Linked DNA regions of Homo sapiens: all the other regions are linked to region 1. Evidence: fine-mapped expression QTL. A gene starts in region 1. Each other region holds a variant in brackets. All regions are shown on one strand. Distances are between the middles of the regions.

Region 1 (4,067 bases):
GCAACATGGTGAAACTTCGTCTCAACCAAAAACACAAAAAATCAGCTGGGTGTGGTAGTGTATGTCTGTAATCCCAGCTATTTGGGAGGCTGCAGCACGAGAATTGCTTGAACACAGGAGGTGGAGGTTGCAGTGAGCTGAGATCGTATCATTGCACTCCAGCCTGGGCAACAGAGCAAGACTCTGTCTCAAAAAAAAAAGCATAGGATTTAATCCATGAATTTTGAATTTCTATGTTAAATTTTTAGAAATAGTAACTTTTTCTCCCATATTTCTCAGCTATATCTGAGATAACTGGGACTGAGCAACATTGTCTAGACAGGCAAAGTGTTAGCAATAATAAGTATAATAATAATTGTAATGTAATAATGGAATGAGGATGTTAAAGTACTGAGATCAGGATAAAAGTTACAATTGTCCAAATTTTAAATTTCCTATCATTTCCACTGAAATCACTGACTGTACTTATAACATTATCAGGAATTTATGCAATTTGTAGGTTTTGAAATAAATTACCATTCAGAATTCAACCGTGAAAAACAGTGTAACTCTACTTGAAAAACACTTTGAAAAACTCAAGTTTCCACCAAATCTAGAAGCACATGGGTCGTAAAACATAGTTCGAAAAGTTACGAGAGATGATGACTACAAGGAACTTTTTATAAAAATCTTTTATAAGCATTACTCTGTGGTCAAATTTATTTTCACATGGATATTAAAACAAGTTATTGCTACAAATGGGTTTCTGTTCTGATCCTTTTTTTGTTTGCCTCACATATCCTTTCTCTTCCACCACATTCTGCTTCACTCTCCCCGTCTCTCATCACAGACAAGAAAAATGCCACCTCCCATAGGACCCACTCCAAACCCTGTTTCCTGAATGATCAATGCCTTCCCCCATCGCAATCAAAAAAGCACTTTCTATTCTGTCTTCATGACACACTGGTTTTGACACTTGCATAGCTGTTAGTAATTCTGCAATGTGCTTGGGCTATTTGTGAGCACATGTATTTTTCCTTTATAGATTATAAACATCTAAAGAACAAGGTTAACCCAGGAGTCAAGTAAATAGTTAAATATTATTTTGACAATGGCTGTAATAGTGGACATTTGAAAGGAATACACCTCAGTATTTTGAAATTGAAATAATTTTCTAGATCCTGGCATTTCTGGACTTTCAACAGCCCACCCTTTTTAAAAATTGTGAAGACACTTTTACTATAAAGGTCTGCCCAGACCCTCTCTGATACACCTGTGTAAATGCCACGTGCATGTGAGCATGCGACAGTACGTGTGTGCACGCCTGTGCAGTGGTAATCAACCATGGTGCTAAGGTTTGAAAACAGAAAATACATCAATCGACCTCCAAGCTTCTTTCATCCCACTTCATAACATCTCAATCTCTTGAGTGCTGAGGCTTATTTTGTTTAAGATGATTTGGACTCTTCTGAGTGCAACGCAATCTCCTTCCAGCACAGCGGACCGAGGAGAGGTGAGGGGAGAGTTTTGAGGGTGGGCATATTGATCCTACGCTTGCTGAATTAAAAATGAGCCAACTGAGGACAATTTCCAGGTTGCAACACAGACGGAGCCGGAGTCTGGGTTGAGGTTAGAGGAGCCGTTAGGGCGCAGGGATGCAACAGGATTTGGGAGAAAGGGGAGAGAAAGCAAGGCCACTTCCAGGGGGCTTTCATTTTTTTTTTATCCTGGCAGCTTCCCGAGCCAGATTTCAAAAGCGATTTCAAACGTGAAGCCAACTGAAGCACTGCCTTACACTAATTGGAAGGGGAAGGGAGTGACTCATATTACACCAGCTCGCTCTTCCCTCTCGGCAACTGCTAACTTGTAGCTTTAAAAGGAAGTGACATGGGTGGGGAGAGACGTCAGCTGAGGACCACTTTTTTTTTTTTTTTCTTCCTGAAGGGTCCACCCCATGGGTGGAGTCTCGCTTTTTCTTTCCAGTGTTGGCTGACTTACAGCTCTTATAAACTAGTGGCAATTTCTGAACCCAGCCGGCTCCATCTCAGCTTCTGGTTTCTAAGTCCATGTGCCAAAGGCTGCCAGGAAGGAGGTATGTGGTCCTGGTGCCGTTCGCAGGCACCTTCCCCGCTGGGTGTGGCTGATGTTTGCATTCCTCTTCCCAGCATATTTTTCTCTCCTGGGCTGGATTTCCTTAGGACCTCTGGAAGGGGTAGGCTCCGGGGGCGGGGGGGGAGTGCAAGGCGGGCGGGGGAAAGGTGCAGGGGGCGCCTGGAGGGAGGCGAAGAGAGGCTCTGCTGGTACAAAAGGACCCTCGCTTTGTGCTGGGCCGGGTGAGCGTCCCTTTCTGGGCTGTGATTTCAAGCTGCTGTTCCTGGCTTCATTTACCCACCCACCCAGCCCCCTCCCGGGGCTAAAGCATTTTCTCTGCTATAGACGAAGCTGGGCGGGGGGTGGTGGTGGGGGGAATGTTCCTATTACATATTGCTCTCTTTTGTGTCATGCAACATGTTCTTCCGTCGCTGACGTTTCTATGGCAACCACAAAAATACTACACAATATGCAGCCCCGATATACATTGATTTATTTGTATTTTGTGTCTAGTTTGCAGCTTTCTGCTCTGCTTCTTGCTTTGGTTTGCTAAAATCCAGCATGGCTTGTGGCTACCCCTCCTCACTTTCATTTTGGTTTTTCCCTATCACAGGAGGGGTGGGGGAGGGGAGTTGTCAAGGAAACAGGCATTGGTAATTACCTCTCTATTTACCTAATTTTCGGCCTATGAATTTCTCCATATCGAGGAATTAAAAAAAGAATGCTTTGATGTTTATGTAAGTCTTCAGTGTCTGGTCTTTTTTTAGAAAACCTAAACACTTCTTAAGATAAGATATTGATCCTGTGGTCAAGCTAAGGGGGAATTAATTCCTTACAGGAGGTGAGATCATTGAAATAAAGTTTTAGAGAGCATTGGAGAATTCGCACTGATAAATGTGATATTGCCTGCCCAGGTTTGCCTAAAAGCTTAAATATTTAAAAGATGGGTCTTTGCTCTCATCTGCACTTATTTAGCTCCAAATCTTAAGTTCAACAAGTATGAGTAACAAATTAACTGCCGGGCAGGATTCTCCGTTTTTCGTTTTCGTGCATTGTTCTTAGATGGATTAGCCACGCTATTCACTCTCTTCAAGGTGAGGGTTGCTAGACTTTTTCAAAACTGTGGAAGGATTAACTCATCTGTGATTAGTCAACGACTCTCAGTTGGAAAAAAAGTATCTTGAGAGAAGGGAGAATGTGTGTGTTTGTGTGTGTGTGTGTGTGTGTGTGTGTTTAGGGAAATGGGAGGCGGGCAGGGAGAACAGGGCACATCTTGAGTTCTACGTTAAAAGGATTCCATCTTCTGAATATTCTCTATGGGGAGAAAAACTGTTATTCAGAAAAAATATGAAATGAGAAAATTATTATCTACTTAGTAATAAGCAAAGTTAATTATAATTAGAATCAAATAACACATCTCTTAGAAAGACATAGCCTCTTAACAGGTACCGGCTAAACTGATGCTTTTATTCAGTACGTCTAAGGAAGCGTTTGATAAGGGATACCATTCTTCTGATGGGCATCCCAAATAATTAGCTTTTATAAAATAGATAAGTAGTAATCCCATTCATGACTCTTAAAATTATCTATAATTTAAGATAAACATGTGTGAAGGTCACTTAGCCCTCATACCTTCCGGCTGCTAAAGCCAAAATCATTACTTATAAACCTTGAGCAACCCTGCCATGTGGAAGCAGGAAGAATGGGTGGTTTCAGTGAGGTTCTGTTTGCTGTGATCCTTATCTAAATATGCTATCATCTATGTCTTATCAAATCTGCTATAAATCCAGAGGTCCTAAGTAATTCAGGTAGAAAAGTTACCTGAAAATGGGGCAAAATAGCATGGCACAAAACAAACCAGAGCCACATGGAGTTAAAGACGAGAACTATTTAAAGGGCATAACACACAGAAAAGTATTACTAAAAAGAATATGACACTCATTTTGAAAAGCACATGTTAGTACACAGAGAAACGGTTGGATTGTGAGCATCTGATG
Region 2 (4,067 bases), 160 kb after region 1:
TTTTAATAAAAAGCAACAAAATTTTAACACCAGTGCAGGTAGCCTTGACCAATAAATTCTGAACTGAAATACATGCATACATTCTAACATTAATAACCCACAGAGATACTTAAAAAGAAACTGCATACAAAACACAAGTGCTTGTTGTGGTGGCAGTCTGGAGAATGAGAGATGTGTACAATCAGCAGCGTCTGAAACAGGAAGCGACATGTAGATGAGAGCTGCACACGCACTGCAGTTCTTCAGAGTCCCAGCTGAGGCCCTTGCATTTATATGACGTGACTGAAAACTGTTCTGCAATTTTCAAATATTCCTACAAGCAACATATATGCTTAACTTGTAGTCTAGTTAGAATTTGGGAATACTGTTCATCTCTCAGGACAGCTTGGCCTTTTGCTCTAGGCTGCAAGATATTATTGCTCCAACTAAGTCACACATCTCTGGCATTGTGTTCTATGGTACCTCCTTCGAAAAGCAACAACACAGAGCCAATGGAGTTAGACAAGCAGCCATCTGATGAGCTGAGGTCAACAGCGAATCCTCATAACTCAGTGCTCCTAGAGTTGATGCTCCCCACAATTGACTACGAGGGGCAGCTTGATCTTCTCGAGCGACTGTACATCTGTACCTTCTTAGCCATGCTGAACTAGAAAGCATTGGATAAGACACCAGTGAGCTGACCTGCTTCAGATTCTAAGGGAGTCTCTTCCTGCCACGGAACAAACGTGCAAACACCATTTTGTGACAGTGGACAGAGACTGAGGATGGTGTCTGTGGCAGAACGACTAGAAATAGGCAGTGCTACGGCCTGGTACAGAGCCAGTTAAGCCAACATCAGGATGACCCCAGACACCAAAGCAAGGTAGCGGACAGGCAGGCAGCCAATGAGACCGGTGTATGCTGGGTGATTCAGGGTGAGCCACATTACAGAGCACGAACAATGCTTACACCCAGACCAAAGCAGACTGGTGTAATCCAAAATAACCTCCCACACTGGGTCTTGTCCCTGGTCAGAAGTCAGGTCGGTTCCTAAGTTAATGTGTTTAGGTTAGCCTCAGACTACAGGACAGAATGAAACTCTTCAGCCTAGGGCCAAATAGGCACAAAAATACTTCCCCATTTTAATTATCCTCAAGACTTGCAAATACAAAGGTCAGGGGCATGGCGTGGTTAAGGCAAATGCCACGGTGACCGTTCTGAGACAGAAGCCCAGCTATTCCCCTCGTGCTATGAGAAGAGCACTTTTAATCCATCAGCATGGCCAAAATAACCTTCAGCAGAACTCAATTTCAAGGTTTGTGTAAACAAACCCCATTCTTGTCTCAAAAACGTAGCCTCAAATTTATATGTGCACTTCTGATCTGATTTACTGTCGGTTTACATATTCATGATTTTCATATATAAATAGACAAGAATCCTGACACGAGAGAAAAAAAAGGTTGCTTTGATCACGAATGTCTGGTAAGTACACGGGCTATGCCAAATCAGCTTATAAAAATAGCAAACTTCATTTTGGGAAAACAGATTTCTCTAAAAGCAGTGTTGAACAGAAAGAGCGGACTCCTGGGTAGAGAGACATGAGTTCTACCTTGTTTCTGAATACAGGATCCTTATAGAGGCGTATTTCAATGAAAGGTATTTCCATCTAGAGAAATCATATGTGGGAATGGGATGAGCGTCTTCAGAGCACCTCCCACGGGCTGGGTACCAGTGGCTCTGGCCCACAGCAGCCAGGCGGGTGTGGGATTACCTTTAATGTCACGGTGGACTATGCCATGCTCATGGAGGACGTTGATCGCAATGGTGATCTGCTTTGAATACAGCCTAATCACATGTTCCTGAAGTCCCAGCCTTGACACCTCTTCTAAAGTCCCCTCATCGCAGTACTCCATGAAGATGTACATTTCTTCCTGTGGGAGGAATAAAGGGCAGCTCTGTGTTTACGGTTTTCCTTAGATGTACGCTAGTGAAAAATCTGGAAAACTTCCTAGGCCACACCCCAAAGGAATGTTCTTTCTAACGGTATACTACACTTGCCATCCTGAGCACTGAATGTGTCTCACAACAGTCGTTTCTAAGTCCTCTATAGAGGTGTCTGCCTGCCTCCTCTGTCTGGAATTATACAGCTCTTGGGGATAAGAACATCTCCAAATCACAGGGGATCAATTTCTATTATCCTCTGAAATTAAGTCTGCTATATAATCTCAGACAGGGACCAACAGGGCTGTCCCTACAAATACATTATTAAGTACTGAAACACATCCTTTTTAAACATAATTTGTAAAAACATTAAAAATGATCCATTTCCAACTTCCCCTGGAAGCTCATGCTCTACACCACGATGCTCCAAGTTATCCTCTTTCCCTCGACGTGTTTATTTCTAAACACAAGG[A/G]GGAAACTCAATTTGAGGTTTGAATTTTCTCTCATTTCACAATGGCTCCCTAAATACATACAAGAAAAAAACCAGTATTACTTAACAGTGTACTCAACAGTGGTTCAGCAAAAAAACGGAAAAAAAGTCACAAGAAGTGGTGTAAGGGGCGTTTTAGAAGAATCTTCTGAATGGCAGGATGGGTTTCAGTGCTTTATGATGTCGGGTTAATGACTACAGTCTACAACTTACATTTTAGGAGGAACTCCTCTAGTTTCAGAGAGAAGGCAGAAATGATGTAACTCATGGAGATTTCCTGAGAATTAGGCAAAGTTACTGTGCTCTGAAATGAGAAGACCTGTGATGTAGAACAGGACTCCATTCTGTGCCCTCACTGATTCCTCACACAAAGAGTGGCATTAGGGTCGGCTTACTCTATGGAGCTCCACACCAAAATACCGAACCAGATTGGGGTGTTTGATGCCTTCGAATATTTTCAATTCGTCTGCAGTTTCCTTGATAGTCTTATGGTCATTAGGTTGAAATCGAATCTGTAAAGTGAGGTGACAAAAATGTTAACTGGCTTGATTTAATCACTCTACATTATACACATACACTGAAACATCATTTTGCACCCCATAAATATATGTAATCATGATTTGTCAATTAAAAACAACAAAAAATTAAGTAAAAAGGAAGTTTTTAGCCAAGCTAGAGTGAAGTCATAGAAGTGCGGGTAGGTCCCGGGCACAGAGGAGGAAGAGGCCCTGCTCCGAGAGGGAGTGAGGAGCGCCATGTGGAGGAGGACGCGGCTCCACGGCAAGTGCAAGACGCTGGAGCCTCCCCTCTCCACTCCTCTCCTCCTTCCACGTCAAACCGGATGTCTCCACAGACAGCAGTGAGTCCTGTTTCTACTTCAGGTTCCCTGGCCCTTTCCCCATCCTACCTCCAGCGGTTTCAATGCCACTTGTTTCTGAAGCTTATCATAAATGTTATCTTCTCCCCCAATGTGTCCCCATAAGACACTACTGTTAATCCTCTCCTCTAAGCCTTCATCAGACTCAGCTCTGCCACCCTCATAGGCCCTTCTCACACCTGTGCTGTTAGAACTGTCTGTGACTTATTATCCTCTCTGGAATCGTAAGCCCCTTCACTGTCTGTGTGTGTTATCTCAGTGCATCTGCCTGGTTGGTCCTGACTGTCGCAGTGCTGGTGCTGAAGACAGCTCTACGCACAGAGAACTGAATCACGACCAGCGTCTATACGGAATTTCTATCACCCAGAGCCGCCAGGCCCAAAGGCCCCACGGAGCCAGGTGACTCACCTCTTTCATGGCCATCAGCTCCCCGGTGTCGACGCTGATGCAGGTGTACACCTTCCCATACTGGCCTTCTCCTGTGAACAATGCAAACAAGCTGCACTTCCAGCCACTGCAGGGGGCTGTCTTACATTCCTTAAACTTGTAATAATACTGTCCAATTATTTTGGACGTATATTTATATATCTATAATTATGTTTACTGCAGTTTACTATTGCAAGATCCAAAATTTTTCTAAATGTTCCCTGATAACTAAAGTTTTAGGCAATCTCTTTAATATGTCTTACCTACAAGTATCTTTAAATAGAGCAGAACCGACTTTGGTAAATTCCAGGAGAAGCATGAAAATGACCAATAAAAGCAGCCTTGGTGCACACC
Region 3 (4,067 bases), 59 kb after region 1:
GGTGATAGGTTTGGCTGTGTCCCCACCGAAATCTCAACTTGAATTGTATCTCCCAGAATTCCCACGTATTGTGGGAGGGACCTAAGAGGAGGTAGTTGAATCATGAGGGCCAGTTTTTCTCGTGCTAGTCTCGTGATAGTAAGTCTCACGAGATCTGATGGGTTTATCAGGGGTCTCCGCTTTTGCTTCTTTCTCATTTTCTCTTGCTGTCGCTGCTTAAGAAGAGCCTTTCGCCTCCCACCATGATTGTGAGAACTCCTCAGCCATGTGGAACTGTAAGTCCAATTAAACCTTTTAAACCTTTTTTGGTTTCGTTTCGGGCATGTCTTCAGCAGCAGTGTGAAAACGGACACTGGGGAAAATCATCTGAATTAAGAGAGTGCTGGGGTGGGGCCTGGGGCGTCGGGGCTGATGCTGCCCCAGCATTTTGGTTTCCACAGTGGAGCCCAGGGAGGAAGTTGGGAAAGAATGAGGAAAGAACGATTGCCCGGAAGCGTTTCACTGTCCTGAGGAGAGTGAGCCTGAAGATTGTAGAAGGCAGTTGCAGAGGTTGTCTGTCATCCTGGACAAGAGACGCACTTGTTGCAGACGTTTGCTTGAGGACAGAAGAGACTGGGGCTGCTGTTGCCTATTCTGTTTCATGGCTTTACTCTGAGAGCCCTGAAAGCATTGACCCTTTGCTTCAGTCATCCATTGAGTTATTCCCACCCAACCCCAACGTGGGTTCAGAACCCTTTCAGAGACATCTCCAACTTGTATTTGTGTCTAAGAGTGTTAGTCTCCTTTGTCAGACTATGAAGAAGCCTTGTCAAGGCAGGAGGGAAAAGTGCTCTTGGCAGCCTCACAAATCTGGCTTTAGCTGAAAGGTATTTTTTGTTTGTTTTCTTTAATCCTCGTCAACTGGACATGGTGCGGTTAAGAGAGGCAAGTATGTGTGAGCCTGGACAGCTTTCCAGCTCTAGGGGCAGAGGAGGTTTGATAGCCCTTCATGGCAGGGTGCATGCGAAGAGTTTTGCTTGCCGGCATAGATAAACTTGACTATGTCTGCTCTACTCAATTTGATGTATAGTTTGAAAGGTAATGCTGTATTACGAATAAAATAATGGGTATATCTACCTAAAAAGGAGAAATTACAATGGGTTGGTGGCTGGTAGGACTTTTAGAGTTTGAGCTATCAACAGGAAACTTGGATCTTGTGTTTTTGTGTTTTCTTTTTTTTTTTTTTTATGGTAAGGGAGGTTATTCTACTGTGTGGTTCAAGCAGATATACCCCTCAGCCACTGCAAGGATATCAGTGTTTCAAGCATGTGCTAGGCTTCAGAATATAAAGACTAGAATGTTTTAGGTTCAAAAAGAGCTTGTTATACATTTAAAATATGGGTTTTGCCTGTAATGTGTGCCAGAGAGACAGACCTGAGAACCACACTCATGCTGAAGGACCAGGATATCTGAACCTGATTACCGAGCATGAGATCAGGGTGAGTCACTGTCAGTCTGTGTTTGCTGGGTATATGCGTATGTTTTGTAAATCCAAGAGTATGGGAAATGGCAGAGAAGGAATGAGCCATGGCCTCAAAAACCTTGAGATTCAGCACAAATATGTCCGCTGGGATGTGTAAACATTTTCAACCCACAGATACGGGGAAGCTTAATTCTACAGAAACATTTGCTAACTAGGCAACAGATTACAACACATGCAGTGTATGAGTTATGGAAGAGTAGGATCATAAGTTAAATAGGGTCATTAATGTAGCTTGCCAAATTGTGAAGACTCTTGTAATAGTATTAAAATTGTACTCAAGCCTATAGAAATGTGAAGCATCTAGACAGTCTCTATGGGGTATTTAAATAAGTATTTAAAATGTCACATAAAAAACATAGCTTGTAGTCCTACCAAAGAAAAAATTGTTAGTATGAAGCTGGATATGGTCTGATTTTTTGAAACTGCAGATGGGCCTGTTGCCTTTGTCTCAGTCTTATCTAAGGCAGGCCAGCAGAACAGGTTTGGAGGTCAACGTAGATAGTTTTGAAATATAGTCACGTGCCCCATAATGACTTTTCAGGCAGTAGACCACATTTACAACGGTGTCTGCTAAGATTGTAATACAGTATTTTTGCTGTGCCTTTTCTATGTTTATTTTATTATTTATTTATTTATTTATTTTGAGACGGAGTCTTCCTCTGTCACCCAGGCTAGAGTGCAGTGGCACGATCTCGGCTCACTGCAACCTTTGCCTCCTGGGTTCAAGTGATTCTCCTGCCTCAGCCTCCCGAGTAGCTGGGACTACAGGTGTGTGCCACCATGCCCAGCTAATTTTTTTGTATCTTTTAGTAGAGACGGGGTTTCACCATGTTGGCTAGGCTGGTCTCGAACTCCTGACTTCAATTGATCCGCCTGCCTTGACCTCCCAAAGGGCTGGGATTACAGGCATGAGCCAC[C/T]ATGCCCAGCCCTATGTTTAGATACACAAATAGTTACCATTGTGTTACAGTGACCTACAGTATTCAGTACAGTCACATGCTGTACAGGTGAGCAGCCTAGGAGCAACAGGCTTCTGAAACCCCCAAAATTTGAGACAGGCCTCAGTAAATTTAGAAAGTTTATTTTGTCAAGGTTGAGGATGTGTGCCTGTGACACAGCCTCAGGAGGTCCTGACAACATGTGCCCAGGTGGTCAAAGCACAGCTTGGTTTTATACATTTTAGAGAGACACGAGACATCAATCAACAGATGTAACATGAACATTGGTTTGGTCTGGAAAGGCAGGACAACTCGAAGGAGAGGGGCTTCCAGGTCACAGGTAGGTGAGAGACAAATGGTAGCATTCTTTTGAGTTTCTGATGAGCCTCTCCAAAGGAGGCAGTAAGATATGCATTTATCTCAGTGAGCAGAGGGATGCCTTTGAATAGAATGGGTGGCACGTTTGCCCTAAACAGTTCCCAGCTTGAATTTTCCCTTTAAGTGATTTTGGGGGCCTAAGATATTTTCCTTTCACATTCCCCAACACCCCCACCCCCACTTTAAAAAATTTTTTTGGAGAAAGCATTTTAGAAGAAGATGAGTCTCTGTTCCCAGGTTTTGTCTGATCTCTCATGACTAGGATGGCTTATTCCTAGACAGGTAGGATCTAAGTTATTAGGAAAACTCATTTTTATAAGGTTATTCTATGAAGAGAAAATAGAGGAAGGAAGACAAACAACAACAAGCAAAAGAACAATCCTGGAAAAATCAATATAGGCCACATTACTCTGAAGCCCATACATCAGTAGGCAGGTATGAAAGTGGCTTATGTATGTAAATAGATTGTTGTCATTTTCTTTTGAAGTTTAAGTTGTCTGGCTTCAGTTCACAGGGCTTTACAAAAGCACAGCTTAGTTTTCAGTGACTCCAAATTAGGAAAAATTGGGAAAAAAAGGAAGGAACAAAAAATTGAAAACATTATTTTGAAGACTTGTAGCCCAGAAAACTTAGAATTCAGTCCAAACTGTAGAAAATAATAAAAATTGAAAAATGTAAGATAAAACTAGAATCTAACAACAGGTGTACTATAGTTTTGAAGCATAATTATTCTCTCTTCAGTTTCCCATTTTTACTAAAGACAAATCATGGTAGGACTGGTTTGCTTTATTATACTTGGCCTAATTATTTGTATACAGTGCAGCAAGAATAATTATTTTTACAAAGGCTTTTAAATTGGCTTTGATGGAACTGTGTTCCATAGGAGGAATCTCAGATAAGACTTTTTTAAAGCCGAGCCCAGCCATGGATTTGTGCCATCAAATACCTATGAGTTGGGTGATCAGCTCCTCTTGAGGTTCCAAGATAAACTTGAGGCTCCTGGACCTGCCAGAAAGTGACATTGTTTACCTACCACAGGTCAGGAACCCTGTGCAGGGGCTGTGTAGACAAAGGTATGAGGCCAGTTTTTTCCAAGGGGTTTTTATTGGCTTCATAAGTCAAGTTTGATTCCTTAAAGGAAAGCACACCATTACAGTCAAAGTCTTGGTAAAATAAACAGTTTCTCTGATTGTGGCCTGTTACAGTGAAAATTGATTCTTACTGCACTTATG
Region 4 (4,067 bases), 130 kb after region 1:
AGGCACCATGGTGAGTTCCCCTTTGTGATATTACTGTAAAAAAGCACTATAAAGACTGTTAAGGAAAATAAATTCAAAAGCCACATTTGCCCATTTTTTAAAATGGGTGAGTTCTATGGCATGTAAGTGACATCTTAAGAAAGCTGTTTTTTTTTTAAAAAAAAACAAGGCACAAAAATATCACCCCCCTTGTCTAGTTATCAGGTGCCCTGTGGCCCCAACCTGGGATAAGAAAATCACCCCGTTCTGGTGGGCAGGCGAATGCCGCTGCTTCCCTGGCAGAGTTGGGTGCCACCTCTCTGGGCATTGCCTGTGCTGCTGACCGTCATGGTGCTCACCTCCTTGTCTCCTCCACCATCTGATCGCTCTCACTGCTTGAGGGTAGGAGTGCTTGGCACACACGTTGATTGTTCTTCAGTTGCTTGATGATGTGACTTCCCCTGAGAGCCCCCATGGCTTCTCTTGGCTGATGTCCAACAGCAGAGTCACGCGACAAGTGACGCTTCGGACCAGGCTTGTTAATGGGCTGCAGGGGGCCGAGGACAGAGCAGAGGCACCTGAACTGCCCAGGGAAGGGGTTGGGGGTTCTCCTTCCAAAATGGCCTAGTGTGTGGACTATTATTAAAAGTGCCTCTGAGAGGCCAAGAAAGCCTATGATTCAGTACACCCTGAATGAAAAAGAAGAAAAGTATGAGATACTTTAGACTTTTCTATCTCAAGTTGTTAAAGGAAAATATTCAGCATTTAAGTAGTATAAGTTTCAATTATAAGGAAGCTCATTTTCCAGAAAACTCGACTCCTTAGAGAACTGGGACATTACTAGGCTAGTTCATGGGACACAAACTGGGCCTCACTGTGACCCACACCCATTTTTGTGTGGCGTGCATGCTATCGGCCACGTGCAGCTTTTACAATAGCTGAGGCAGCTGCCCACCATACAACCTGGGCAATTCCCTGTGGCTGCCTGGTTCAGCTCTGCTCCCTGCAGGCAGCTTCTGCCCTGGCCCCTCCTCACGGCCAGGACCTGCCCTTAGACGGGCCAGCGGGCATCCTGGTGCCACAGCTCCTTGTTCCCCCCAGGTCCTGGCTCAGCTCAGCTCCCAGCCGCTTGAGCACGCCTGCTGACCTGGGTTCCTGGGTCCCTCCCTTGTGTTCAGCAGCTCCTTGCGGCTGAGCCCCAGTCCCTGAGCGGGAGCTCCGTGACATGAGACACCCAGGGAAGAGCCACCGCGTTCTTTCGCAGTGCATTTATGTGGGGCCGTGAGTCCCCTGTTCTCACCCAGGGACTGCAAGGAGCGCCATGAGGCTCTGGAGTAACTGCCCTGCAAGCTGCTCGGTGACACACACACCCTGTGGGTGGATGTGGATGAGTACATGGTTCCCACTAAGGATCTGCTTAGTGGAAGGACATGAGCCTGTTTGTTTACCTTTCACACGGTCTAACAATCACTTAGAAGAGTCACCCTGGACACCCAGTCCTGAGTGTGCTGTCACCTCTGAGAGCCACACCCAGCAGCCCTC[C/A]AGCCCTTTGTCATTCATGATGCCTTGAATCACGGCCCTCAGAGCCCTCCAGTGGCAAACAGGGTGGTAGGTGCGGGTGGGCTGCCCGAGGTGAACTGGCTGTGGAGGCCGGGAAGGCGGGGCATGTGCCGGGCCGGGCTGGGCGAGCTCCTCCTGACTGCGGGCCAGGTCTCCACCGAGTGTCCCCTGCGGGCAGCTTCGGCGCAGCATCCACTCCATTCTCCCGCCGACCTATCGTGGAAGGCACTGCTGCCCCATTAGACAGACTGGGGCCTGGGCTCAGGGATGCAGGTGCCTGCCCACAGAGGGTGGATCCTAGCCCAGGCTGGCCTGGCGCCAGGGTTCATGCTCCACGCCCTGCACTCAGTGACAGCTGCAGCGGCCCCACCACTCCCAGTGTCCCTGTGGGAGGGGCGGCCAGATGCAGCTTTGAGAAGACAGCAGCTGCCTACAAAGTGCTTTCTGGAAGGAGCTGCAGACCCCAGTTCTGCCGAGCCCCGGTGGCACCTGTGTATCTCTGCGATTCCCTTGGAAGCAGGGCCTCGGGAGGGACCTGCCACCGAGCCCCGTGTGGCGTCTGAGGGTCCTCTTTCCTGTCCCCCAGGATGCCTTTCAGGAGGAGTACTACAGGACGGGCACCTTCCCAGAGACGCCCATGGTGCCCCCCCGGCGGCCCTGGACCCTCGTGAACTGGCTGTTTTGGGCCTCGCTGGTGCTCTACCCTTTCTTCCAGTTCCTGGTCAGCATGATCAGGAGCGGGTCTTCCCTGACGCTGGCCAGCTTCATCCTCGTCTTCTTTGTGGGTGAGTGGAGGGCAAGGGGCTGGTGGGTGCTGACAGCACCACCCTGGGAGAGGTGGCATCAGGGCTGGGACGAAGGCCATCTGTATAGGCAGTTGTGCCGTGGATGAGGAGCAGGCTCAGCTTGCAATCACAGGGAAAGATTAGACTTCAGGATGAGTGCGAGGCCCTCGAATACCAGGCCTGGGACCCCCTCCGCAGCCTGGACGGTCCAGCCTCCCACCTGGGGCTGGATTCCACACGTTCCCTGTTGGGTGGTGATGCAGCTGCCACTTCACTCCCCGACAGCTGGGAGTGCTCCCTCCCTGTCCTCCGCAGACAGCTCTGCTCATTGGCATCATTTCCTGCTTCTGAAGAAAGCCCTGTGCTGGAGCCTGGCGGGGACGGATGGGCAGCTCCCTGCCTTCCTCTGGGGGCGCCTGTGGCTTCTCCTTTGCTGCAGGTGGATGACACTGAGTGGAGACACTCGGCGACAGAGCTTTTCATGGGTCTGCGCTGGCTCCAGGTGACCGGTATTCTCGGGCTACTGCTGCTTCTTGGTGGCAAGCCCCTGTGCACCCTGCTCCTTGCCTCTGGCGGGGCAGCCTGTCGTGCCTGCTTCCTGCCCTGTGAACAGCAGGTCCGTGCTTCCTGGAGCCAAGGAAGACTTTGGGGTTTCCCTGTGAAAGGCCCTGTCTCCCCAAGCCTGGCGTCCTCTGAGGCTTTGGAGAGCCCGGGAGAGACGGCACATTGTCCAAGCACACAGAGATCACGTGCTTCTTCCAAATGGACAGGACTCAGTTATTTTCTGTCAAACACAAAGATGCAGTATGCTCACTATAAAAGGCCCAAGCAATAGACAAGCGCAGAAAATGGAAAGTGTGTCAGGAGACCATTCCCATTGAGCCCACTTCCCAGATAATCGTTAATGACAATTTGATGCACGTGGTGGTTCCAGTCTCAAGCATATGTGCATCTATAAACCCGTATCAGTGGAGTTTCTTCAGCTCGCCTTTTCACCTAATGAATCATAACCACCAAAACAGGTCACAGCACATAAACCTAGCTCATTCATTCTGACTGAGCCAACCAATGCTGCAGCATATGGGTGCAGTAGACAAGCTGGCTCCTGTTCCTCAAATAGACCCTACTATACAGTCTTTTGAAAGATTAAGATGTATTTTAGTGTTAAAAATTAAAATATTAAAACAACACCCACACCGTGTAAGGGAAAAAAATAAGAGGTTGGAGAAGAAAGCACCTCATCTCCTTAAGGCAGGTCCAGGGGCACCCCCATGCCCCGCCATGCTGAGGCTGGCCAAGGGTCCGGGGCAGCTGCAGGTGCCAGGGCCCCTGGTAGGGCGGGGGCAAGCTCAACCCTTCTGCTTCAATAGCAGGCAACAGCAAGGCACACACACACCCACGCCGTCTTGGAGAGGGGCCCCTTCAGGATGAAGGCTGCAGACAGGGCCACCCAGCTGTGTAGCGAGTACCAAAAAAAGAAGCCTGAGCACTGCCCAGGGTGCAGTGTGGACACAGGGCGTCTCCAGGAGCATCTGAGGGGTGCAGTATGGACACAGGGAGTCTTCAGGAGCATCTGAGGGGTGCAGTGTGGACACAGGGAGTCTTCAGGAGCATCTGAGGGGTGCAGTGTGGACACAGGGAGTCTTCAGGAGCATCTGAGGGGTGCAGTGTGGACACGGCGTCTCCAGGAGCATCTGAGGAGCTGACTGCCGTGCCCCATTACTCTGAGCCTGCGCCTGACTG
Region 5 (4,067 bases), 39 kb before region 1:
TATACCGGCACTCTAACACTAAGAGGGGCCTAACTCTCCCTTGGGGGAGCAGCCAGAGAGGACAACACGAGTGGGAAGTGTGCAAGGGACCTTCAGAGGGGGAAAGGGAGGAAACAGGTCAACCTTCTAGAGCAGCAAGGCAAGACACCCCCTGGTTTGAGGGGTTGAGCCTTCCGCAAATTTCAGGGGGTTGAACCTCACACAAACCTCCTGTAGTAAGAAAAATATTCAGAACTCCCCTTTCCTTTCTTCTCAGGGAAAGAAAGAGTAGCTGCACTCCCACCGGTCCCTCCCCTAGGGGAAGGGGAAGGAGAGGGGAGAAGAGCAGCATAAGCGGCTGGCAGAGGCAGAGAAAGAGACAGAGTCAAAGAGAGAGAGAGGCAGAGAGAGAGAAAGAGACAGAGACAAACAGAGAGAGGGAGAGTAGTAAAGAGAAAACAGTGTACCCTATTCCTTTAAAAGCCAGGGTAAATTTAAAACCTATAATTAATAATTGAAGGTCTTCTCCCTGACCCTATAACACTCCAATACCACCTTGTTGCCAGTGTAAACAAGGTTGTAACCCAAAAGCCCTGAGGTGACTGACAACCCGTAGCCTTCCTAATCAAAAATCCTTAACCCAGTAACCCGTGGATGGCCCAAATGCATTCAATCTGTAGTGGAAACTGCTTCGCTAACAGAAGAAAGTAGAAAAATAACTTTTAGAGTAAACTTCATTGTGAGCACACCTCATCAGGTCAGAACTATCCTAAGTCAAAAAGAAAACAAAAGATAGCTTACTGACTCAAGAACCTTAAAGTATGAGGCTATTCTGTTAGAAAAAGATGATTTAACATGAACCACTGAAAATTCCCTTAACCCACCAGGTTTCCTAACAGGGCATCTAAATCTTAATTACCATACAAAGGTCCAACCAGACCTAGGAGGAACTACCTTCAGGACAGGACTGTAGATGCTTCCTCCTGGGTGATTGAAGGAAAAAGACACAATGGGTATTCAGTAAGTGATAAGGAAACTCTTGGAGAAGCCAAGTTAGGAAAATTGCCTAACAATTGGTCTGCTCAAACGTGCCTGCGAGCTGTTTGCACTCAGCCAAGCCTTAAAGTGCTTACAGAATCAGGAAGGAGTCATCTATACTAATTCTAAGTTAATATGGACTGAACGAGGTCTTATTAATAGCAAAGAATAATTGAAATCCCAAACTTACAAGGTTTTCAACAAAAGTAAAGTTTGCTAAAAGTTAAGAGTGTAACATGTATTATCCTAACGTCTAATCTTGTGGCCTTAGACAGTCTAGTCCACAGAAATGAAGGAAGTTCAATTTGGAAAAGAATGGTTATCATCTTTGAGAAAAAACAAAGGAGGGGGGAGAGAATTTATGTAAAAAGGAATATTATATGGTAAATTCTTGTCCTAAAATAAATGAACTGGTTGTTTAGAGAAAGGGATGTTTGCAACAAATCAGAAAGTTGAGGCATGTTGAAGAATTGTCTGTGAAAGTTATGGGAAAAAAAAGTTATAAAAGGGAATTTATGCAAGAAATGTTGTATAATTTAAAAGTAATTAGGCCTCCTGAATGTAAAACTATTGAAGAAACAGTTTATGTGTAAGGTGTGTAAGGAAAGTAAAACGTACTTTGGTAAAAGGATTATAAGGAGACATAAGAGTGTGGATTTTTACCTACATTAAATGGTTAAAAAAAAATTGTTTTAAAGGTTTAGGCAAGTTTTGAAATGTTAATTGAAAAGGAAATTCTGTGTGTAAACATATTGGGTAAAGTTAAAGGGATATCACCCAGTTTTTCTGAGAACTGGACATTAAAATAAAAGCACAACATGTTTTTCTTAAAGCACTAACCTGCTTTTTAACAAAAATTATAAAAGGTTAAAAAGCATCTATACAAATCTTACCATATGGTCAGACATTAAAAATTGGATAAATATGGCTACAAGATTTTATTAAAATTAACTTTAACATTAAAAACACACTAATGTAAAGGTGAAATTTAGCTTATCTGGTATAAATATCATACAGGAAGCATTGGCAAATATAAAA[C/T]GGTGTTTGGCTTTCTTTGGTCTAAAAAATAATAAAAATAGGTGCTAAAGAAAATTTCTCAGCAAGAAGGTGCCAAGGACTATAAAGTCCATTGCTGATGTCCCCACATGTAAAACAAAAGATCAATTTCTTAGAAATTATATACTTGGTTTATCTTCTACTTTCCTTTCCCTCAAAACTAAAAGTCTTTTAGCACAGGTACCAGCCCTAGAATTTCCGGTAAACCAGCACCAGCCTGAGGATCACATTCTCATCAAAGGGTGGGGAGAAGGAAAACTTGAGCCAGCCTGGGAAGGACTTTACCTTGTGTTACTAATCACCGAGACTGCTGTTCATACAGTGGAAAGGGGATGGACTCATCACACCCGAGTCAAAAAAGCACCGCCTTCTCCAGAGTCGTGGGCCATAGTCCCAGGGGAAAACGCTACCAAACTAAAGCTAAGAAAAATTTAACTCTTTCATCTATTCTATTACTTTTTCTTCTTTCCTCACTCTATTGCTGACCATCTAGTTATTAACATAACCAAGTCAATTTCGCCTCAAACTATTGCATTTGGTGCTTGCCTTGTTATACCCTGTGGGAACTTGCCAAGTCAGAGACAGCTCTCTACTTCAGAAAAGCACCTCTGTCCCTCCTGACTCTTCTCAGATTAGGCATTAGTGAACTGGGACCATTTAATCCGAGGAGATTTTGATAAAGACCCCGGCGTCAACCAGGAGTCTTGCCCTCCCAATGTACAGCTTTTATGCCATAGTTGGTCCAGCATTCTGTGGACCACTAAAGAGCAAGGATGGACCGCCCCAACCTGTTTTTGTAATTTCCTAAAACTGTACATTCATGTTACTAGAGGGACAGCCCCCCACTAAGTGTCAGCTAAACCAGTGCAATCCTATACAGGTTATTATCTCGAATCCTCAAACTTCTTCCCCTTTTCTAAGCCGGTTCCCTCCTTTAAGCCAGTTTTATGGTATGGGGGTTGAGGTTTGAGGGACAGACCCTATTGGATTCTTTAAAATGTATTTCTTTGATCCCGCACTGCCTGCACCTTCTTCTAAGCCTTCTTCCAAAACCTCTCACAACGGAATAATTGCTCCTCCTCCATCTAACCACAAGACCAAGATGGCTGTCGTAGAAGTTAAAGACTTAAAACAAGTATTGGCAATTGAAACAGGTTACCAAGTTGCAAATGCCTGGTTGGAATGGATCAGATATTCCGTCCGCACTTTAAACGAAAGCAATTGTTATGCTTGTGTGCATGGCAGGCCAGAGGCCCAGATTGTCCCCTTTCTAGTAGGGTGGTCCTCCAGTTGACCAGGAGTGGGCTGCATGATAGCTCTTTTCCCGGATCCTACAGCCTGGAGTAACAAGTTGTGCCATGCTCTCTCTCTGCTATATCCCGAAGTCCGGCATCCTATGGGCCAGCCCCTGAGGGCCATCCAGCTTCTGTCTCCCAACACTAAGTTAACTTCATATCTCTCACGACAGGGAGGAAACAGCATTCCTTGGAGACCTGAGGGGATGCAGTGAGCTTAAGAATTTTCAAGAACTTATCAATCAGTCAGCCCTTGTTCATCCCCTAGTGGATGTGTGGTGGTATTCTGGTGGACCTTTACTGGACACTCTGCCGAATAACTGGAGCGGCACTTGTGCTTTAGTCCAATTGGCTATCCGTTTCACCCTGGCATTTCATCAACTAGAGGAAGGAAAAATAAGACATCATAATGCGAGAGAAGCCCCTTATGGGTCTTTCGACTCTCATGTCTATTTAAACGCAACTGGAGTCCCACGGGGAATACCAGATCAATTTGAATTCCGAAATCAAATAGCTGCAGGATTTGAGTCAATATCTTGGTGGGTGACAATTAATAAAAATGTAGATTGGATAAACTACATCTACTACAACCAACAGTGATTTAGTAACTACACTAGAGATGCTGTTGAAGGAATAGCTGAGCCATTAGGGGCTACAGGCCAGATGGCTTGGGAAAATAGGATAGCCTTAGACATGGTA
Region 6 (4,067 bases), 87 kb after region 1:
TGATTTTTTAGTATGTGTCCCAGATATTGCATGCCTCATAATGTCGTTTAGTATTGCGTGGGACATACTTATGCTAAAAAATAAAGTGTAATTTATCTGAAATTCAAATGTAATGGGGTACCTTGTATTTTACCTGGTCATCTTAATAGGGACAGAATATTACGTTGTTGGAAACACTGGGAAGTTTCACTTGAAACAAGTGATGTAAGGAGAGGATCTCAGAATTATCTGGTGACCTAATTTATCACAAGTCTGATAGAAAAATGTGCAATTTATACATAATCCTTAATAATTAAAAGCTGCTCTACTGAAAAAGTTGGTTTTCTACTAGAAGAGAGACAAAATTAAATATCCTAAGGCGTCCTAGGCTGAGATATGGAAGCAATCAATGTCCCATGTAAAGACAATGTTTTTTAAAAAACAGTGCCGGGATAGAGTCCCTTCCACATTTCTGCCTGTAAAAATTATTTTGGTAATTGTGTATATTTTAGCATCTTAATTTATCCATTTCAAAATTAGAAAGTACATATATAGCATTTTATTATATATTTGTACATATTAAAACTGCATTTTAATGTATACGTATTTCTCTGCTCTGTGGGTAATGAATTTGGATAATGAAAATCAGCTGAATTACATTTCAATAAGGGAAAGGTGAGAGAAGACATTAATTAGATGAAAATTTAGAGCAGGTATTTATCTTATGTAGATTTTACAATTTGCTTTAAATATTCCTAAACAAGTTAGTAATTTTATAATGGTGCTTTTAAAATAAAAAAAGTTGGGCCGGGCACGGTGGCTCACGCCTGTAAGCCCAGCACTTTGGGAGGCTGAGTTGGGCAGATCACTTGAGATCAGGAGTTTGAGACCAGGCTGGCCAACATGGTGAAACCCTGTCTCTACTAAACATACAAAAAAAATTAGCTGGGTGTGGTGGTGGACACCTGTAATCCCAGCTACTTGGGAGGCTGAGGCAGGAGAATTTGAACGCGAGAGGTAGAGGTTGCGGTGAGCTGAGATTGTGCCACTGCACTCCATCCAGCCTGAGCGAGACAGTGAGACCCTCCCTGTCTCTAAATAAATAAATAAATAAATAAATAAATAAATAAATAAATAAATAAATGGGCTTCAGGACCATACCATCCTTAACTGATTTTTGCTGTGATTTGGATCCTGGTGAATTTTTCCTTAGCTACACAACTGCTGCTGTCACCCATACTGTTGGATTCCAATATTTCTTGAGACCCATGGTTGGGCAAACCCTGCCTTGCATGCTGTGGGCAGCAACAACAACGAAATGAACAAGACAAGACCCTGCTGTTGAGGAAAGCACACTCTATGGTAGAAGAATACTGAACAAGACAAAACGTGCCTGTGAATAGAAGGTGAGAAAGAAAGTATGGAAGGCGGAGCAAGAGGTTCCGGGAAAAAGGTGACCACCAACATCATTGCCACTCACAGTTCTTTTGCAAACCTTAGTCTTCTCTTCTTAGATGTTCACAGCAGTTCTGTGAGTGATTATCATATTATTCCATTTTTACAGATAAAACAAAGTCAGCAAGGTTAAGTAATATGCCGATGTTATTAGTAAATCGTGGAATGGGAATTCAAATTCAGGTCTGACTTCAGAGTCTGAGGCTGTGTCCCTCGTGGGGGATTCAGGCGAGTTGAAGAGAGAGACTACTCCTAAGGGAGGTGAGGGGCAAGTGGGTGGTCTTATTTGAACTGAAACTTGGAAAACAGAAAAGGCTGGACATCCTTTAGAAAGGAATGGTCTTTTGGGCCAAGAGAACAGCTTGAGCAAGAACCCAGAGCTTGGGGTAGGTACAGAGAATTCTAGGTAGTTCCAGGAACAGCGTTGCAGTTGCTCTGGGCTTTAGCTCAGGAAGTGCGGTGGGGAGAAGTGGGGGAAGGAGAGGGTGGCCTGGAG[T/C]TGGGGCTTGCTGGGGAGCCTGCAGTCATCTGGTTGATCGTGCGGAGCCAGCAGAGGCGTCTAACAGGAGGAAGTGGCGGCAAGGCATGAGACTGGCATGCGGAGCGGGTGACTTTGGAGGCAGAGAGACTGGGTAGAAGGTCATCAAGAGGTAAGGAGGGCAGTGCTGGAGATGGAAGGGAGGACAGGCGGTGGTGGACATGGAAGATGTGGGCGGACAGAACCAGTGACGGCAGCGAGCCGGTGGACTGCAGGGGCCGTCGGTGGTGTGCACAGGAACACGAGTTGCTCTAAGTTGAAATTCTTGGAAACATACCATGTGGCTGCAAATAGAGGAGCCCTGGGAGACAGCAGGGAGGTGGCAGGGTTTCTCGTGGACTGCCTGTGCCTCGTTCCAGAGTCTGATTCCCAGATTTGTAGGCTAAGAAATGTGATTCATCATCATGTTAGTCAGGCTCTGATTCACTCATCTTAAGCATGAGTGTTCCAGGTTAGCCATCAGGAGACTGAGGCATGGGGGTTGGAGCTGCCCATAGTCAGTCAGCCTCCCAAGAAGTGGGGGGCTGGAAGGTCCAACCTCAGTGGCTTGACTGCTCTGCAGCCCAGAGTAGGCAATGAGACTTTCCTTGTTAATGGGGTGAGGAGAAAATGGAAGATTTCGAGAATTTCTCACTACTCCATGCAGTAAGCAAAGGAGGGGCAGAAAAGGGACTACTTTTACTCTTCGGGAACTTTAGACCTTTTAATCGCTTCAAATATAGTGGCATTGAAATGCAAAGTATTTTCAAATTGCATTGTAATCTTCATCTCTTTCAGAAATTAAAAAAAAGAAAATCCAGGCATGACCGTGATCTATATTTTAGGGATGAACAGTTTTATGCCATTTTTGTCTTTGTCTCTCTTCCGGCTGCTGCTAGAGAAGAGGCAGCGGTGCCCAAGCCAGGACTGAGAGGTTTCGGGTGATGCCTCTGCCGTGATGATCATTGCTTCCTGGACTTATTTTCTGTGGAAGAGGCAACTTGTTTCTTGAACTTTTTAATTAAAATCTATGTAAGAGTAGAGAGAATAGCATAAGGATTCTCCAAAGTCAAAGAATCTAGATTTCACTTTAAATATTTCATCCTACTGGCAGGTATCGAGTTGATTGATGAAAATGTAAAAATTGAATTCCAGACATTGTATGTCATGAAATATCACCCCACATTGTCATGAGATGTGTTTTATAAAGATTCAAGACATCTTGGCCAGGTGTGGTGGCTCAGGCCTGTAGCCCCAGCTACTTGGGAGGCTCAGGCAGGAGAATCACCTGAACGCAGGGGGTCAAGGCTGCAGTGAGCTGAGATTGCACTACTGCACTCCAGCCTGGGTGACGGAGTGAGACCCTGTCTTTGGAAAAAAAAAAAAAAAAAAAAAAGACATCTTAAAAACATAATCAGAATGTCATTATCAAAAGAATATAAATTAATGGCATTCTTAATATAATGTAATACCACCTATATTCAGATTTCTCTAATTGTTTCCAAACTATCTCCCTCTTGTTTTTTTTTTTTTTTTTAAACATTTGGAGTATTTACATAGGGATTTAAATAGGGCCCATACATTGCATTTCGTTTTTATGTCTCTGAAGTTTCTCTTAATTTAGAACAGACCCCCCGCTCCACCCAACCTCTTTTTTCCTTAATTTGTGAAAAGCCCAGCACTGCCTCGTAGAACCTCCTGTGCTCTGGGTGTGTGGGTGCTCATCGTGAGGGCGTTTAACCTACTCCTCCCTCTTGACCTGCCTGTAAACTAGAAGTTATGTATGGGTGCTTGATACTTTGAGTTTGACAGTTTTCCCAGGAATACTACACACACCACAGGTACGGTGTTTAGAGAACAAAATCTAAGGGCTGATGGTATTTATGGCTACCAAGCTCTCATTGCTCCTAGGCTTGATGTAGTCAGATTTCTAGTCTTGCCAAGTGCCCAGATGGGTGGAAACCTGGCAGGTAAACTGTCCCTGATGACTGACTGGGCATGGGCTGTGAGGAGACGTGCCACTAGGTGTAGGAGAGGAACAGAGGTGGACCACAGAGCCTGGGAGGAAGCAGGGACAGAGAGGCCAGAGGATGACAGGTGGGAATGGGGGGTCCGGGGC
Region 7 (4,067 bases), 120 kb after region 1:
TTGGGAGGCCGAGGCGGGTGGATCACCTGAGGTCAGGAATTTGAGACCAACCTGGCCAACATGTTGAAACCTCGTCTGTACTAAAAATACAAAAAAAAAAAAAAAAAAAAAAAAAAAAATTAGCTGGGTGTGGTGGCAGGTGTCTGTAATCCCAGCTACTCCACAGGCTGAGGTGGGAGAATCGCTTGAACCCTGGAGGCGGAGGTTGCAGTGAGCTGAGATTGCACCACTGCACTCCAGCCTGGGCAACAGAGCAAGACTCCATCTCAAAAAAAGAAAAAAAAAAGAAAAGCCAGGTTTGGTGGCTCACACCTGTAATCCCATCCCAGCACTTTGGGAGACCTGAAGGTCAGGAGTTCGAGACCAGACTAGCCAACATGGTGAAACCCCGTCTCTACTAACAATACAAAAAATTAGCCAGGCACGGTGGCAGGTGCCTGTAATCCCAGCTACTCCGGAGGCTGAGGCAGGAGAATCGCTTGAACCCGGGAGGCAGAGATTGCAGTGAGCTGAGATTGTGCCACTGCACTCCAGCCTGGGCAACAAGAGTGAAACTTCGTCTCAAAAAAAAGAGAATGGAGTCTCTCACCTTTTGATGAACACACACACACACGCACGCGTGCACACAAACTGATTCATTATTTTGAGCTCCAGTCTTTTCTGCATTTTGCTATAACTAGGGACAGATTTCAGAGATTCCAGGCCCATACCATCCTCTCTTGCACACACCTTTCTTGCCAGAAGGGGTCTGTACAACAACTTACTGGCAGAGTTTAGTGGCAGAAGTGGAACACAGAAACTGAAAGCTTTCTGCTTCTCCCTTCCCACTAGACTCTGGGCACCTCAAGGCCACAGGTAATCATAACCAGCATTGAGTTCTCGGCACCTGCATAATGCCTGGCATAGGGGGCTTCTTAATCAATACCTTTGCACAGACAGAGCAGCCTTGGGTTGAAGATTCCAATCTGATGCGCTTATGCACCATACATCAGAATGGAGGCTGTGCTATGGGGAGACTTGTGGGGACCCTGGAGTGATAGGGCTGGATGGCTTGTCTTGGCTCCAGGGAACTGAAACATTTGCTACAGTGGCTCCAGCTGGTAGTCAAGAAAACAGTCAAAGGACTCAAAGGCAGGCTGTTTAGCCTGCTTTATTGTTAAGGAACATCTCACCTGTTTTTGAAGTTCCACTTAAGATACCTCATTTTATATATTTAGTAGAAATAAATGACCTTGGCTCACTTGACTAACTGGTAACCCTACTGGGAAACCTTCATGAATGACTGGACGTTTGCAAACAAAGCTGGCCATAGAGCCTCAGCCCCTGAGGGGTTCCTTGCTGGTGTTAGTGGGGGTGGAGGCGGTGCAGGAGCAGGATACCCTGCTGCTCCCAGCCATGCTGCTCGCAGCACCGGGGTTTGGAATCTTCATCTGAAGCCTTGATGAGTAGCCATTTTGGAGAAAACCTTAACTAGAATGGCCTCATTCCGATCCCTTTTCACCCCAGAGGCTGTAGAGCTTCTGAAGGTCAGGGTCAGAGTACTGGGTCTCAGGCCCTCTCTGCGTCAGCTCTTCCCAACGTCCAGGGTCTCTGCAAGGGCTGGCCCACTTGCCAGAGATGCAGACCAGGTCATGGGGCTGGCTGCTTCCCTGAGCTGTGGGGAGCCTCAGGATGGGTCGCTCAACTAGATTAGCTCCAAGCACCTGCCCTAAGACAACTCTCTCTTTCACTCTCTCTCTCCATAGTGGTTTACTCCACGTGAAAATTTTAG[A/G]TTGTCTAAATATGCTTGTATCTAGACAGATCTGTTGATACATCTAACTCATCAGTAAATCCTTTCACGTTGACCTGTGAAATAAATCCAGAATTGATGAAATTAGTATATTTTCTTGTACATTCTCTCTGAAAGCTGTTGGCATCACACATGGAAGCCTCTGAGTGGCCTGGGAAAGCCATGATAGTTATAGCCTATTGAACCTTTTGCCGGGGGAACTGTCAGTATGTCTTAATAGCAGTTTCTAGTCTCTTTGTCATAAGTGAGTTAACTTGGGCAACTGTCTGTGCACAGTGACTCTTCAGTTGTGCTTAAATAAATGTAATCTATTGTTGTTACTATTACGCTAAAGCATGGCAGAGAAAATGGGTTGAATAAGGAGGTGTTCAGATACTGCTTGCTCTGGGATGAAAATAATAGCTACAAGTTATTGAACGCCCATGTCAGAGTCTCAACTTTGTGCTTTTGTAGATGTTTCCATACATTATTCAGTCTTTACAGGGACACCAGGGAATATGTGTTGTCTTCCTCATCACACAGAGGGGAAACAGAAGCTCAGAAGGATTGGGTGTCTTGAGCACAGTTACACAGCTGGGTCGTGGTAGAGCCTGGTTAGAAACAGGACTGTCTCATTCCAGAGCTTTTCATGCAGCCCTGCCAGGGAAAGAGAATTGAGTGACATTTCTTCAGTTTGAAGAAGTAAAAGCTTCTACCTTAATATTTTAACATGTTTCTTACCAAACATAGTTAACATCAAAACCTAGACATATTGATAACATCCAAAATTTTAAGGCTGAAAGATGGATTAAGCCAGTATAAAGAAAGTTATGTCTCTTCTTTTCCCTTTGATCATCAAAAACACCTGTTACCCCAGCACTTTGGGAGGCCGAGGCAGGCAGATCACCTGAGGTCAGCAGTTAGAGACTAGCCTGGCCAACATGGTAAGACCCTGTGTCTACAAAAAATACTAAAATTAGCCAGGCATGGTGATGGGCACCTGTAATCCCAGCTACTCAGGAGGCTGAGACAGGAGAATCACTTGAACCTGGGAGGCGGAGGTTGCAGTGAGCCAAGATTGTGCCATTGCACTCCAGCCTGTGCGACAAGAGCAAAACTCTGTCTCAAAACAAAACAAAACTGTTTCTGACCCAGAGCCTCACTTATATTCCCAAAGCAGATGGCGAAAGCATGCTGATGTCAGCCCCTTCTTAAAAGTGACATTGTTACAGGGATACTGTGAAATATGTTTACAATAAAAAACTGGAAAATCTAACAAAATAAAAATCACTTGTAAATGACTGCCCAGTGCTGAGACCAGCTTGGTCAGGCAGACCCTAACCCAGCGGTGCTAGAGGAATTAAAGACACACAGAAATATAGAGATGTGAAGTGGGAAATCAGGGGTCTCACAGCCTTCAGAGCTGAGAGTCTTGAACAGAGATTTACCCACGTATTTATTAACAGCAAGCCAGTCATTAGCATTGTTTCTATAGATATTAAATTAACTGAAAGTATCCCTTATGGGAAACGAAGGGATGGGGTGAATTAAAGGAATAGGTTGGGCTAGTTAACTGCAGCAGGAGCATGTCCTTAAGGCACAGATTGCTCATGCTATTGTTTGTGGTTTAAGAACACCTTTAAGCGGTTTTCCGCCCTGGGCAGGCTAGGTGTTCCTTGCCCTCATTCTGGTAAACCCACAACCTTCCAGTGTGGGTGTTATGGCCATCATGAACATGTCACAGTGCTGCAGAGATTTTGTTTATGGCCAGTTTTGGGGCCAGTTTATGGCCAGATTTTGGGGGCCTGTTCCCAACAGCCCAGCAACAACTACTGTTGTTTTTCTCTGCTTTACTTTTTTCATAAAGTCATAATAATGCTATAGACTCACCTTTGTTCCAGATCTTTTAAAAATTTAGTATTATACAGTAAACCATTGCCTAGCCATTACACAGTCATAGAAAACAAGTTTTAGTGGCTCTAAATTAGGCTCTAATTAGTGGCTCTAAATTTAGTGGCTCTAAATGTCATCTGGAATGGGCCAGAGAATGAATATTTTAGGTTTTGTGGACCACAGCGTGTCTGTCAAAAAACACTCCTGTGTGTAGCGTGAAGGCAGCTGCAGACAATAGGCACATGGACAAGAGGCTGTGTGGCCACAGGACGTCACTTACAAAAGCAGGCAGAGGAGCAGGCTTGTCCCGAGGGCAGTAGCTTGCTGACTCCTCTCTAGTGTTATACAAGATCTGGTACACACCATAACCCACGTGACATGTCTACCGTGGGATATCTAAACATTT

Direction of the effects. Positions count from the first base shown, and alleles are read on the strand shown. Sizes are in standard deviations (SD) of each study's normalised expression. Not every link is listed here.
In carriers of allele G in region 2, the expression in monocytes after LPS of the gene that starts at base 1,948 in region 1 tends to be lower than with A alone (large effect, 1.1 SD a copy in Quach 2016).

The links. PIP is the estimated chance that this variant, and not a neighbour inherited with it, causes the effect.
Region 2: its variant is the best candidate, but not a certain one, in a credible set for the expression of AGPAT4 in monocytes after LPS (Quach 2016, PIP 0.76).
Region 3: its variant is the best candidate, but not a certain one, in a credible set for the expression of AGPAT4 in whole blood (TOPMed, PIP 0.65).
Region 4: its variant is the best candidate, but not a certain one, in a credible set for the expression of AGPAT4 in whole blood (TOPMed, PIP 0.51).
Region 5: its variant is the best candidate, but not a certain one, in a credible set for the expression of AGPAT4 in caudate (GTEx, PIP 0.63).
Region 6: its variant is the best candidate, but not a certain one, in a credible set for the expression of AGPAT4 in whole blood (INTERVAL, PIP 0.88).
Region 7: its variant is the best candidate, but not a certain one, in a credible set for the expression of AGPAT4 in whole blood (INTERVAL, PIP 0.51).

Annotation. Positions count from the first base shown.
Region 1 is chr6:161,271,942-161,276,008 of GRCh38, reverse strand. It overlaps AGPAT4 (1-acylglycerol-3-phosphate O-acyltransferase 4), which reads left to right and starts at 1,948. Exons shown (of 9, transcript NM_020133.3): 1 at 1,948-2,071.
Region 2 is chr6:161,107,598-161,111,664 of GRCh38, reverse strand. MAP3K4 (mitogen-activated protein kinase kinase kinase 4) reads right to left here. Exons shown (of 27, transcript NM_005922.4): 21 at 3,696-3,766; 22 at 2,806-2,922; 23 at 1,751-1,910. Among named protein-coding and RNA genes, the nearest start is that of AGPAT4-IT1, 52 kb to the left of the region's middle. The variant A/G (reference allele first, on the strand shown) is at 2,393.
Region 3 is chr6:161,212,867-161,216,933 of GRCh38, reverse strand. The region is part of intron 2 of AGPAT4 (1-acylglycerol-3-phosphate O-acyltransferase 4); the gene reads left to right. Among named protein-coding and RNA genes, the nearest start is that of AGPAT4-IT1, 53 kb to the right of the region's middle. The variant C/T (reference allele first, on the strand shown) is at 2,440.
Region 4 is chr6:161,137,679-161,141,745 of GRCh38, reverse strand. AGPAT4 (1-acylglycerol-3-phosphate O-acyltransferase 4) reads left to right here. Exons shown (of 9, transcript NM_020133.3): 8 at 2,126-2,324. It overlaps LOC124901455 (a long non-coding RNA gene), which reads right to left and starts at 2,130. Exons shown (of 2, transcript XR_007059860.1): 1 at 1,280-2,130; 2 at 1-668. The variant C/A (reference allele first, on the strand shown) is at 1,522.
Region 5 is chr6:161,310,611-161,314,677 of GRCh38, reverse strand. No RefSeq gene overlaps it. Among named protein-coding and RNA genes, the nearest start is that of AGPAT4, 39 kb to the right of the region's middle. The variant C/T (reference allele first, on the strand shown) is at 2,056.
Region 6 is chr6:161,184,561-161,188,627 of GRCh38, reverse strand. The region is part of intron 2 of AGPAT4 (1-acylglycerol-3-phosphate O-acyltransferase 4); the gene reads left to right. Among named protein-coding and RNA genes, the nearest start is that of AGPAT4-IT1, 25 kb to the right of the region's middle. RefSeq lists enhancers at 2,129-2,669, 1,726-2,925. The variant T/C (reference allele first, on the strand shown) is at 1,931.
Region 7 is chr6:161,156,157-161,160,223 of GRCh38, reverse strand. The region is part of intron 3 of AGPAT4 (1-acylglycerol-3-phosphate O-acyltransferase 4); the gene reads left to right. It overlaps AGPAT4-IT1 (AGPAT4 intronic transcript 1), which reads left to right. Exons shown (of 1, transcript NR_024277.1): 1 at 1-110. Among named protein-coding and RNA genes, the nearest start is that of AGPAT4-IT1, 3.8 kb to the left of the region's middle. RefSeq lists enhancers at 946-1,445, 1,446-1,947. The variant A/G (reference allele first, on the strand shown) is at 1,772.